3 separate regions of the Homo sapiens genome follow, and all the other regions are linked to region 1. Evidence: fine-mapped expression QTL. A gene starts in region 1. Each other region holds a variant in brackets. All regions are shown on one strand. Distances are from middle to middle.

What was found. PIP is the estimated chance that this variant, and not a neighbour inherited with it, causes the effect.
Region 2: its variant is fine-mapped to the expression of GRB10 in blood mononuclear cells (TOPMed, PIP above 0.99). The same link has a PIP of 0.9 or more in monocytes, monocytes after LPS, monocytes after Pam3CSK4 and monocytes after R848.
Region 3: its variant is fine-mapped to the expression of GRB10 in whole blood (TOPMed, PIP above 0.99).

The regions. Positions count from the first base shown.
Region 1 is chr7:50,780,833-50,784,967 of GRCh38, reverse strand. GRB10 (growth factor receptor bound protein 10) reads left to right here and starts at 2,072. Exons shown (of 19, transcript NM_001350814.2): 1 at 2,072-2,544.
Region 2 is chr7:50,824,652-50,828,786 of GRCh38, reverse strand. No RefSeq gene overlaps it. Among named protein-coding and RNA genes, the nearest start is that of GRB10, 44 kb to the right of the region's middle. RefSeq lists an enhancer at 1,189-2,388. The variant A/G (reference allele first, on the strand shown) is at 1,795.
Region 3 is chr7:50,711,902-50,716,036 of GRCh38, reverse strand. The region is part of intron 4 of GRB10 (growth factor receptor bound protein 10); the gene reads left to right. Among named protein-coding and RNA genes, the nearest start is that of GRB10, 69 kb to the left of the region's middle. RefSeq lists an enhancer at 312-827. The variant A/G (reference allele first, on the strand shown) is at 2,543.

The DNA.
Region 1 (4,135 bases):
GCTGATGGAGCTGGGGAGAGGACCCGGGATGAAATGGGGCCCAGCTATTCCTGACACTTCCGATTAATCTTCTTGTTTTGGACTCTACGTTTCCCATTTCCAGAGGTGAATGGTAGTTCTCATTCCTGAGACTTTCTGGGCTTCCACTGAGTATATCATCAGGCTTCATCTCCACTTTCCAGCTTAGCCTTCATCTCTTTTGCCTTTGCTGTCAGTTACTTCTTGACCACTGGCTTTTATGCCTTTTCAAAGATTCTGTTCTTGTTCTAGTAAAGCAAAATGTGTGTCCTGTCAGCCATTCAGTGAAGGTCTGGCTTTTCAAGATTCCTTGTCCATCATTAGATCATTTCTCTCTTGCTCTTCCCACATCCAGGAACAGCTGCTTCGAACTGGGACCTCTGGCATTTTGTAATAGAGGGGAGTGTGGCAGGGAAGCCCTCTGTCCTGCACAACCTGTTGTTCTAGCCCAGGAGATGGCAGGGTGCGTGGGATGTTCAGGCAAAGGAGTTCACCATCCAGGCTGGGAGCTGCTGGGCAGGGAGGCAGAGGAACACTCGAGCCACCTTTGTGGGGTTGACTGCAGAGGTGGAAGAAGCCACTGTGTCAGACCGCAGAAAAGTCTCATATCTGGAGTCTGGAAGGAAAGCCAAGTTCTCCCAGTCAGTAACCTGCTCTGGACTTTGGATAAGTTACATAATTTCTCCACACTTTGGTTTCTCCCCGAATCTCAGGGTTTGATTCTGTGCTTCCATTTCCCATTCTGTGCCTTGCGATGTTCACTATGTGACATCTTCTCTGAGGGGTGCGCAGTTAGAGTCAAAAGCGCTAACACCTTCAATGTTTCTTGCAGTAGCCAGGCCATATGTGGTCAGCCCGGACTGTGAGAAAAGAAAGCCTTGTGTTACCCTTTGTGTTGTGTTGAAAACTGCTCTTGGCTGCTTTCAGAACCAGCCTTAACTCTGCTTTTGTTTGATCGACTTAAACATATTGGAATTTTGTGGTCATGACCACCGTGGAACCTCTCCTTTTGGAGTGCATATCTGCACTTTTTCCAGCCTCCTCCTCCAGTGACCTTCAGGGGCCTGACCTGGCCTCCGAGCAGTTGGACTAGGGTAGCTTTTCCACTCTTTGAACCCCAGACTGAGATGGGGTTTTCCCAGCGCCCTGCCCCTTAACGTGTGTGAATGCAGTATAGGATCTCAGTTTCAGAATCCATTGTCCACTGTTGACTGTTAGGTTCTTACTGCTGTCTACAATGTCTAGCTTTTCCTACCATGTTCTCTGCTAGAGGGGAGTAGAAAATCTGCTTACTGCTTACTGTGGCCTTGTAAACGGCAGTGAATATCTCCAAACGTTCTGTTTTGCTTCCATCATTGCAGGCTCGTGTGTATGTCTGTGGTGTATGTGTGTGCGGGGGTGGGGGAGTATGTGTGATGTGTGTGTGTGGTGTATGTGTGTGTGTGGTGTGTATGTATGTGTGTGGTGTGTATGTATGTGAGTGGGTGGGTGGGATGTGTGTGGTGTGTGTGTGAGGTGTGTGTGGGGTGTGTGTGTGTGTGAAGTGACTAGCACATAGCAGATGCTTGGTATGTATAGGATCTGTTCTTTCCCTCGCTGACTCTCAGTTTAAATGGGACCCTACTTTGTCCTCGTTGTTCAGTAACGTTATGCCTGTGGCTTCCAGAAAGAGCCTCTCCCTTCCTGGTTCTTGCTCTGACATTTTGGGGAGAAGGGTGAGACGAGAGTGATCCTGGAAGAGTAGAACTGGCCGGCCCTGCAGGTGGAAGGTTGCTCGAGCAGGCGGCATCTCTAGCTTGCCGCGGCCGCGATGTCCCCCGCCTGTCTGCGAATGCGGCGTAGCGGGTAGACATGGAGGGCTTTCGGCATCGTCAGAGTGGCCAGTGTGCGCGTCCTTGCCCATCAGGCGGGGGGGCTGTGGGGGAGGAGAGGAGGCAGTGGAGGGAACAAGGGGTTCTTCAGGGTTGCCATGAGAACCAGGGATCCGGGGATTGGGCAGCAGAGGGCCCCCGCCGGGCGTTGGGGCGTGGCCGCGTCACATGGGTTTGGTCCTGGGATTCCTGTTGTGCTCCAGGACCGGGCGCTGCTCCGTCGTCCTCCCGCTCCTCAGGAGCGCCCAGTCCCTCGGAGGCTGAGTATTGCAGCCGGGCGGCAGCCGGCTCCGCGGAGGGGCCCCCGGGCACCTGCGTGGTGATGGCGCTGGGAGCCCCCGGGCACGCTCGGGCGGTGGCGCGGCATCCCACCCTCGCCCGGATGGCGTCCCCAGAGGCGGCGTTGGCCCGCTTTTCGTGCTAGCGCGTTCGCCTGGCGCGCGGTGGCCCCGAGGCCCCGGGTCGGTTTTCTGCGCCGCAGGCCCCTGGCCGGGGCGGAGCCGTGGAGGACCAGCCCGGCCCGGCTCCGAGCGCTGTCCATGCGGAGCGCTGTCCACGCGCCGGGCACTGCGGGGGCCGGGCCCCGAAGCCCTACCCGGGCCGGCGGCGCACACGCAGCGACCCCGTGCGGCCAGTGCTGCCGCCCGCTCTCCAGGTACTCAGGTGGGCTCCGCCGCGGGCGCTGGGCGGTGGGCGGTGGGCGGTGGGCGCGAGCCGGGGCGGCGGGCGGATCGGCCTGCGCAGGCTGCAGAGGCCCCGGCCGCGGCGGACAGGGCCCGGGAGGGAGGCGGGGAGGTCTTGCCGCGCGGCCCCCTGCCCGCCTGCCGCGGGCTCGCTGCAGTCCGAGATCCCGAGCTTCGTTGCCGCCAGCCATAGGACAGTATTATGTAACCATTTTTAATCTTAATTGTTTAATATTATGTAACGAGTAATAACTGTACCCACGGAAACCCGTGACGACGATTCGAGCGAACCTCGCCCGCTCCTTCCTCGCCAGGTGGTGGGCAGCGGGTGTGGGAACCGGTTTGGGAAATGAGTGGATCTGGGCATCCGGGCTACTGCACCGGCTTTTTCTGTGAAAAACATAATGCTAGAGCCTGCCTGGAATTCTCTTAAACCTGGATGGCATATAGTCCGGTATAAAAAAGCTTTGAGTAAACACGTATAGTCAACGTTGCCTCTTTCTCCATGAAAACCTCTTTCTCCCTGGAAGGTGCATATCAGACAATGTGAATTGAGCAGTGAAGATGTGGGCATGGGGTTCGTGTTCTTGATGGAGTTCAAAAAATTGTGCATATGAACACGTAGGACGTCCTAGCCCTTGCTCTTTAGAAAAACAATCGGATCACCTGTTCCACACGCCAGTCGCCTCCTTGGTCGGCTGCCATTTGTCTGTTGATGGTACAGTCCCTGCCAGGGTGCTGGGGGGACCTCGTCTGCGGAGCCGGCACACAGGTGGCTATGGGCGGGGGAGACTGCAGTCTAAACCCGCAAAGCTCTCCTTCCTAGCCCAGTGAGGGGAAGCGTGGGTGTCTTTCCTCATTGTTCTTTTTAAGTCTGAAAGGCAGCGACTGCAGGGATTATGACGTGCTGGCGGCCAGGGCCTCGGGTGCTGCCTGGAGTCTCCTGCGTGTCTCTGCTCCTTTGATGTCAGCATCGGGGGTGGGAGCAGGGCCCACGCATTCCCCCTTTGGCCTGGGTGGGAACAGGGGAGGTGGTGGGCAGGGCCAGAAGGGCTTACTGGGATTTTCTTTCTCTCTGTCACTCCAGAGAAAGGTGGTAAAGAACACTTGTTTCAGTTTGAGGTGCTCGGCAGCCACGCGCTGAAGGACGGTTTTTAATTGTAGGGTGGGGTGTGAGTGCAGTGTGGTTCAGTCCCCTCCCCATCTTGTGCTACCTGCCGTTGTACCTGGACCTGTGAATCAGGGATAATAGTTACTATCTTGTAGGACTGAGAATGGTGCATACTAACTGCTGAGGAACATGGTGAATGGAGTTATGGTAATTGCACGATTGGCATGAAGGGGTGAGAGAAGTTCCAGATTGGTCGATTAAAATGTGAGTTATTTTTAGTGTCTCCTAAGGATTTCCATCACCAGTTGCTCCTCCAGCCATCATGTAATTACCACCCCAGAACTAGGCTTCCAAACTTCGAGAGAACACTGCATCTTTCGAATTTTGGAGGTTAGGCTCCAAAATTTGCATATTTAGGCCACAGCCTAAATTCACTGACACTTGTGTTCCCA
Region 2 (4,135 bases), 44 kb before region 1:
GCCTCCATAATAAATATCATTATCTTGCTTGAGTTTCTTCATGTTTATAATTTTTAAAAATCATATAACATTTCAAAGAGTTAAGGTTTCACTTAAAAAAAAAAAGACCCCATTGTGGAACACATAAATTGTTTCCCATATTTCTCTATTAAATAATCAGACTGCAAAAAACTTATGAATCTGTCTTTAAAAAAACTTTTTTAAATTCCTTAGGTTACATCCACAAGTGAGATTATTAGATCAAAAATCCCACAATTTTATGGATGTTGATTTGTATAACCTTTTACTCTATTACTTATATAAATGTACCTATTCCACTATATCTTTATGATCATTAGGTTGTAGTATTGTTTTCGCCTTATTAAAGTGATATACAGATAATCCCCAACTTACGATGGTTCAACTTAAGGTTTTTCAACTTTACAATGGTGCAAAAGTGATACACATGTAGTAGAAACTGTACTTTGAGTACTTATACAGCCATTCTTAGTTTCGCTTTCAGTACAGTACTCAATAAATCACATAAGATATTCTCCACTTTTTGTAATAGGCTTTGGATTAGATGATTTTGCCCAGGTGTAGGCTAATGTCAGTGTTCTGAGAATGTTTTAGTCTCAGCTACAATGCTCAGTAGGTTAGGTGTATTAAATGCATTTTCAACTCACTATATTTTCAACTTATGATGGATTTATTGGGAAGTAGCTCCATTGTAAGTTCAGGAGCATCTGTATTTATACTTAGATTTGTGCAAAAATTCATTAAAAATCTGTGTAATTTTGCATAAAGCATAAATCAAGGGTGATTACTAGATTCTAAAAAGTAGTCTTCTGAAGTGCTTTTAAAGTTTGATTTGTTTCAATCAGCATAATGGGTGTGTCTAGGTCAAGTGTGAGGATTATATTTTGGTGTCCATCGAAGTAGGTGGGGTGTAAATTCTATGAAGGGCCGGACTGGCAGAAAGATGTGGTCCTCATGCTAGGTACTTCATGTAGTCATATGCACAATGAGCTTAAAAAGCAATTGGAGTGTCTTGGTCCATGTAGGTGGAACATTGAAGAGTGTCAAGAAGAGCTGGATGGGAGGTGCTGTCATACAGGCAGGGCTCTCTCTCAAGGTCAGCTCTGCCTCCTGTTGTATTGGCTTCTTCTGAAGGCAAGTTCTCTCATGAAGTGGGGAAGATGGCCACCACCAGCTTCCCAGTTTAGCAGCACAGGGAAAGTGAAACTCTCCTTCCCAACATACACATAGCCACCTCAAGGGAGGCCCTCCTGGCCCTGTGGAAATGCATACCCTTTGCATCAGTCCTTCCTCCTGTGGCCCACTGGGGGTGGTGTGCTGATGGACAACCTAGGACCACAAGGGATGGGGAGATGAGTTCTTCCAGGGATGGGGGATCCTGGACAGACCAAACAATAAAAGTCCCCTGTGTCATGCATCCTCATACAATCCTATGGCTGAATTAATAACTGAATTAAGGGAAATTCCAGATCAGCCTGAAGCATCCTGTAGCATCAGAGGACATGCTTTAAAAAATAGGAACACATCAAAAGCACACAGGAGTCATCCTGAAACAGTACCCAATGGCCAAAGCTGGAACAATCCATGAGTCTATGCCAATATAAGTAAACATGTGAATAAGCAAATACATAGGGAAAAAGAGACAAATCTTTCTCACAGAAGCACCACAAGTAATACAGGGGAGCATTGATGCAGCCACTTCTCCAGGAGGTGGGGCTTCATTGCTCTCCTAGTGAGTGTGGACTGGACCTGGTGACTCACTTCCTCTAGAAGGGT[A/G]TGGAAAGAGAAAAATAGCAACTTCACAATGCAGTAATCTAGCGGATGCCACCACAACCAAGGGCTCAAGGTTAACATCACCAGACTTGAGTCATGGTGAAGTCATGTGCCCCCGAGGCGAGGCAATGAGAAGGGCACTTCACCCCATGGCACTCACCCCCAAAACATAACCCCAATCGATCACAGAAAACATCAGCCGAACTCAAAGCGATGCACATCATCCAGAATGCCTGATCAGCACTCCTCCAAAGGGTGATGGTCTTGAAAAAGAAACAAAGTCCCAGAAATGGGCATAGATGGGAGGAGATTAAGGAGACAGCCTAAATGCACTGTGGGATCCCGGATGGAATCCTGGAACAGAAAAGAGGCATGAGTGAAAAAAACTGGTGAAATACAAAAAAAGTCTGGAGTTTAGTTAGTAGTATTGTGCCAGTGTTAATTTCATAGTTGTGACAAACATGCTGCGGATATGTAAGATGTTAACAATTACAGGAAACTGGATGGAGAGTATAGGGAAACTCCCTGTATTATCTTTACAGCTTTTCTCTAAATCTAAAATTATTCCAAAATAAAAAGTTTGAGAAATTAACAGTGATTACCCATTCCATACTAGGCACTGATTTAAGGGCTATGCATATATTAACTTTTAAAAATCTTAACAATAACATTGAGGTATCTGCTATTATGATTACCACGCTAATTTTATGGATGAGGCTACCAAATCTGAGAGGTTTAGCGACTATCTATAGTCACGTGGTTCTGAGTGTGTGATTAGCGCCTAGGCAGTTTGGTTCTAAAGCCTGTAATCTGCAATCTTTAACTCTACATAACAAACTTTCAAGGAAGAGTTAATATCTGCACATTGTTTTTCCTCTTGAACACCCTTACCTTAGGAGAAAAACCTGTTCTGGTCTGCACAGCTCACAGGGGGTTCCCCTCCACTTATTCCCTTTGCATACACCTTCCTAAGACACAGGCTTTCAGATTGCAAGTGTTCCTAATCCCTAATACCCAGGCCCCACAATACTGAAAATTTCCAGAAAAGAAATGGAGTCAGCTTAGAAAAGAGAATTGAGAGAGAAAGAACCAACAAAAGGGAAATAATAAAATTTAGTGGGGGAAAGTATGAAAAGCAGTGCAAACTTGATTCCCTTACCAGAGTAACTCAGGGATTGAGGAGAAATGGCTTGCTGCCTTAGGTGTTGGTTAGAGACCCCAAATCACCCACGAGAAAAGTGCAGTGGGCCTTCAGCCTCCTGCTTTCACTCACGAAAAGCACCTGTTTTCTGCTCTGATAGAGATCAGTGAATACCAGCCACTGAATGACTCTCACGTGATATGCCTTGTGCTGTTAGTTAAAGCTCGTGCTCCTGAATTCTCACAATATTGTGCGTTTTATGCCCCCGTAGAGCAGGGGTCTCAGCCCAAACATGTCCACCACCTGATTTCATAGGGCCCACGAGCTAAGAACAGTTGTTATGTGACTAAATGGTTGAAAAATACATCTATGAAGACTATTGTGTGACACGTGAAAATTAGACCGAATTCAAACTTCAGTGTTCATAACTGAAGTTTTATAAACATAGCCTTGCCCATTTATTTACATATTGTCTACGACTGCTTTGACACCAGAGAGTGTGACCATATGGCTTGCAAAGCCTGAAATATTTACTATTTACTATCTAGCCCCTTGCAGAAAATATTAGTTGAGCCCTGGTATAGACAAAGAAACTGTGGCCTGGAGAGATTGAAAGAACTCATCTATAAGGATGCAAAAGAAACTGTTTTCTGGATGAGCCCTGGGGCATAGGTGTTCCTTACGGGGCAGGCAGGGAAGGAGGCGTGGGTGAGAAGGCTGGGTGTTTGCATCGTACCCTTCTGTGCTGAGGGTTACTCTACAGTGAGCATGGACTGCTTTGATCTTCAGGGGCCGCAAGTGGTGAGGCATCCTTCAAACCCAGACAGCTCAGCAAAGCCCACCCACTGAGTAAATAGGACTCATCCCAAGACATGAGGTTGAGGACAGTCACTCAGTTTGAATTTTTTCAGATCCTGGGTCATTTTGGAATATGACTGGGAGAATAAAAACTCCAGAAAGGCAATAAACTGATAGAATTGTAAAGGCAATAAACTGATAGAATTGTAAAGTGAAGTAAATCTTAAATGCTTTTAAATAAGTGAAAAGCAACCAAATAAGTCTCAATATATTTTCCCTCCAATAGTTAAAACACAAATTTAATGCCAAAATAAATGCACATGAATAGCCAAAACTTCCTTAAGACCTCGAATTCTTAATGCTCCAGGACTGAACTTATATTCCATGTGGTATCCCAAGGACAAG
Region 3 (4,135 bases), 69 kb after region 1:
TCTCTGCCTTGACCTTCCTGAGTGTTGAACTCTGTCTCCTTAGGACGATCCTAGGCTCTGCCTGGAAGGGAGATTCCCCCTCCCTGCGCTGCAGCTTGGAAGCTCTCTCCAGCCAGTGAGTGGGCACTAGTAGGGCTGCGTCATGTGGATCATGTCTCAGGAATCACTGTCCCATGCTGCCTGTTGTCAAATGTATGAAAACTGTTTCAGTTTTAGTTATTTAGGGGGAGAGGGTACATCTAATCCTTTATATTCCATATTGGCCAGAAGCTCAGAAGTCACCCATGATATTATTTTAACCGTGGTTCTAGGAGTAGATTTGCTTTGGAACATTTTTGTGGAGTGTGCAGACCCAGCTTTGGAACTCAGAAGAAGTTTAGACGTCATATGGTCCAAAAACCTGATTTTATTGGTGAGGAAATAGGCCCAGAGAGTGAAGTTATTTGCTCAGAATCATAGTTTGTCACACTGGCAGTTTGTAAACATTTGGCTCATGCCACAATAAGATTTTTCATACCTGAAGGGCGAGGTGAACTGTTTCTTATGGCCCACAGCAAGGTTGGGATCCACCAATTGTTCCTGCTGTAATGGCTGCCCGAGTTTGGTCTTACTGGGAAAAGTCACTCTTTGGCAGAGGGATTGAGTTTCCTGAGCCCTGGGATCTGTGCTGTTTATTCATTTTTATGAATAAAACGAGCTTTATCCAAAGCCTCTGGGGAGCATCACTATGAACCGCCGTCCTCTTGCCCTGCCAGCCCAGCCCTTCTGCTTGCACCTGGAAGCTGCTCCATGCCCTTCCCTGCTCCAGATCGCGCCTGCCCTTCAAAGGGCTGCCACACCTGGGAGCCCCAGGCTGGAGCTCCAGGCCAGACCTAGCTTACCTCATTCCGCCTCCAGCTTCTTGGCATTGGCTGCCATTTACCCTTGGCCCCCTGCCCTCTACCTGTGGGAGGGACTTAGAAATGAGGAAAAGCCACCACCAAGGATTCATCATATCAAACCCTGGGGCCTTTTCCTGGTCAGCCAGGACAATGAGAGTTATTTCCAAATTCTGAGATTATTGTTGAGAAAGTTCAAGGAAGAGATTTCTCTCTTCCTTCTGCTCATGGGGGAAGAATGTGGGTGTGTCATGTGCCTCCTACGGCCCTGATCTGCTAGGAGGGCAACCCTGGCTCTGTTGATCACTCTCACAGCCGCACATGGTTTGGTTCTCTGGTTTTAGTGTAGAGGTTGCTGGGGTTGTGGGACCCAGAGAGAAAACGAGAAGCTTGAAGCTGAAGAAGTTGGGTTCAGTGCAATTGCAATGGCTTTGTGCACCCCACCTGGGAGCTCAGGAGGGCTCAGGATTGCACTCCGTTTTTTGTTTTTTTTTTTGAGACAGAGTCTCGCTATGTAGCCCAGGCTGGAGTGCAGTGGTGCAATCTCGGCTCACTGCAAGCTCCGCCTCCTGGGTTCACGCCATTCCCCTGCCTTAGCCTCCTGAGTAGCTGGGACTACAGGCGCCCGCCACCACACCCGTCTAATTTTTTGTATTTTTAGTAGAGACGGGGTTTCACCGTGTTAGCCAGAATGGTCTCAGTCTCCTGACCTCGTGATCTGCATACCTTGACCTCCCAAAGTGCTGGGATTACAGGCATGAGCCACTGCTCCTGGCCTCAAGTTATATTTAAAGTATATAAATATAATTTGACTATAACTTGCATTGTCACTGATCCTCTTGTGGTACTTTAAAGATTGTGTTGTCAAAATTATTAAGTGGGTAGTTTAGAGATTCTGATCTTCTGATTTCTCAGACTGTTAAGTTACTCTAGAACTCATGATCGATTAAGGTACTGCTACATGTTGACTATTCTAACAAATTAATATTATGTTAATACATGTGGATATTTTGGTGTCTGAATAGTTGCCTTTTTGTTGAAGTTGGGGATGGAGGAAGTGGTGAGGAGGGGTGAAGGTAGGGGAGGAAGAGGTAGAGGTGATGGTAGAGGTGGTGGTGGAGGGGGAGGAGGATATAGAGATAATGAAGAGTGTGGAGGTGGATGTGTTGGTAGCAATGGAGGTGTTGGAGATGTAAGAGGTGAAGGGTGGTGGGAAGGAGCAGAGGTGATGGAATGGGTGGAAGTGGTGATGAAGGGGTAGGTAGTGGAGGAGGAGGAGGAGCTAGAGGTGAGGGTGGAGGTGGTAGAGGAAGTGGACGAGGTGGAGGTGATGGTGGAGATGGTGGAAGTGATGGTGGAGGTGGTAGAGGAGATGGAGGAGGTGGAGGTGAGGGATAGAGATGGTGGAGGAGGTGGAGGTGATGTGATAGTAGAGGAGGTGGAGGTGAGGATGGAGGAGGTGGAGGTGACAATGGAGGAGGTGGAGGTGGTGGTGGAGGAGGTGGAGGTGATGGGGGAGGTGGAGGTGATGGTGGAGGAGGTGGAGGTGATGGTGGAGATGGTAGAGGAGGTGGAGGTGAGGATGGAGATGGTGGAGGAGGTGGAGGTGATAGAGGTAGCAGAGGAGGTGGAGGTGATGGTGGAGATAGTAGAGGAGATGGTGG[A/G]GATGGTAGAGGAGTTGGTTGAAGTGCTGGAGGTGATGATGGAGGTGGTAATGAAATGATGGTGGGGGTGGTAGAGGAGATGGAGGTGGCGGTGGAGGAGGTGGAGAAGGTAGAGGAGGAGCTGATGTGGCAGGAGAAGTGATGGAGATGGAAGGAGGTGGTGGGAAGGGGTGGAGTGCTGGTGGAAATGTCGGGAGGGGAGGTAGTGACCGCAGAGGAGGAGGAGGCAGGGGCAGTAGTGGCAGTAGTAAAAATAGCAGCTGAGATTTACTGAGCCGTGCTTTCCATGTGTGATCACACTAAATCTTCAATAGTCCTTGGAGGTTATACTCACACAGGGTGGTTTAATGTCTTCCCCAAGGTCATGTAGCTACTCTTCTGTAGAAATTCTAGAGCTAGTGCTGTCCCCCTTTCGGCCAAAATGCCTCATTGATGTGGGAATACCAGATGCAAAAACAGGAACAAAACTGACTTGGCAAAGGCATTTTATTTTGGGAAAACCATTTGTCAAGATTGACAGGCTCTGGGCAGGAGGTTTCTTTGTAGGGTGATGGAAATGTTCTAAAATTAGATTGTGGTGATGGTTGTACAGATCCTTAATTATACTAACATTCATTGGTTTGTACACTTCCAACAGATGAAATTTATGTTATGTAATTTATATCTCAATAGAGCTGTTTAAAATGTAAATGATTGATAGACTCCTCCCCTTGTGAATAACCAGAATTGATGTTTCTGTGCTGAACACTGCAGAGTGGGTGGTTAAAGTGAGGCAGCTCATGCACTACTTTTGCTTTTAATTCAAGAATGGCTGCACTTGGAGGTAGTTATGTGGAAATAAGTGCCTGAATATGGAGTACAAGCCACTGATCTGTGTGTTTTTTAGGCCGTATGATTTTAGTGAAAATGTGATCATTTTTTATGTGGTGGTATTTTCCCTGCCAGGCCAGGCATTCTTACCATTTGGGAGAAAAGTTTTTTTGTACTCTGACCAGGGCTTGCCCAGATATTTTCATGTTGGCCTCAGCAGCCTGTGTGAATACAATTGTAAGTAAAGAGCATCCCCCTTGTTCCTTGATACGAGACACCTGGCTTGCTGACTTTTCTTTTTCCCCCATCTCAGGCTTTTGGTGGAAGCAGCTCTTGTTTTTGTTTAAGGATCAGTTTGACTGAAATCTCTGCTTAAAAACCTCTTGCTTCCTTTCCTCTTGCATAGACCTAAAGTGTAATATCAAAACAGGCAGTGTCACTTTGGGTGAGAAAAATGGCTCTGGCTCATTTATTATGAAGGTTATTTCCATTTGAGGGACTAGTTTTGTACACCTTGCAACTGGCAGAATAGGAGTGCTGATACTGCAGCTTTTACCAAGTTCACTAATGTTTTAGGATTTTTTTTTTCAGCCTTTTTCAGCCTTGTGGAGTTTCTGCATGTTTTAGGAATTCTCTGAGTGACAGATTTTGTAGTTACCCATAGCTCGGTTGTTAAGGACATGTTCTCTGATTCAGCCCCAATGGGTCTCACACCCACGCTTACGAGATGTGATTCGCTGGGCAAGCTGCTGTCCTCCTTTTTCCTCATCTGTAAAGATGAGG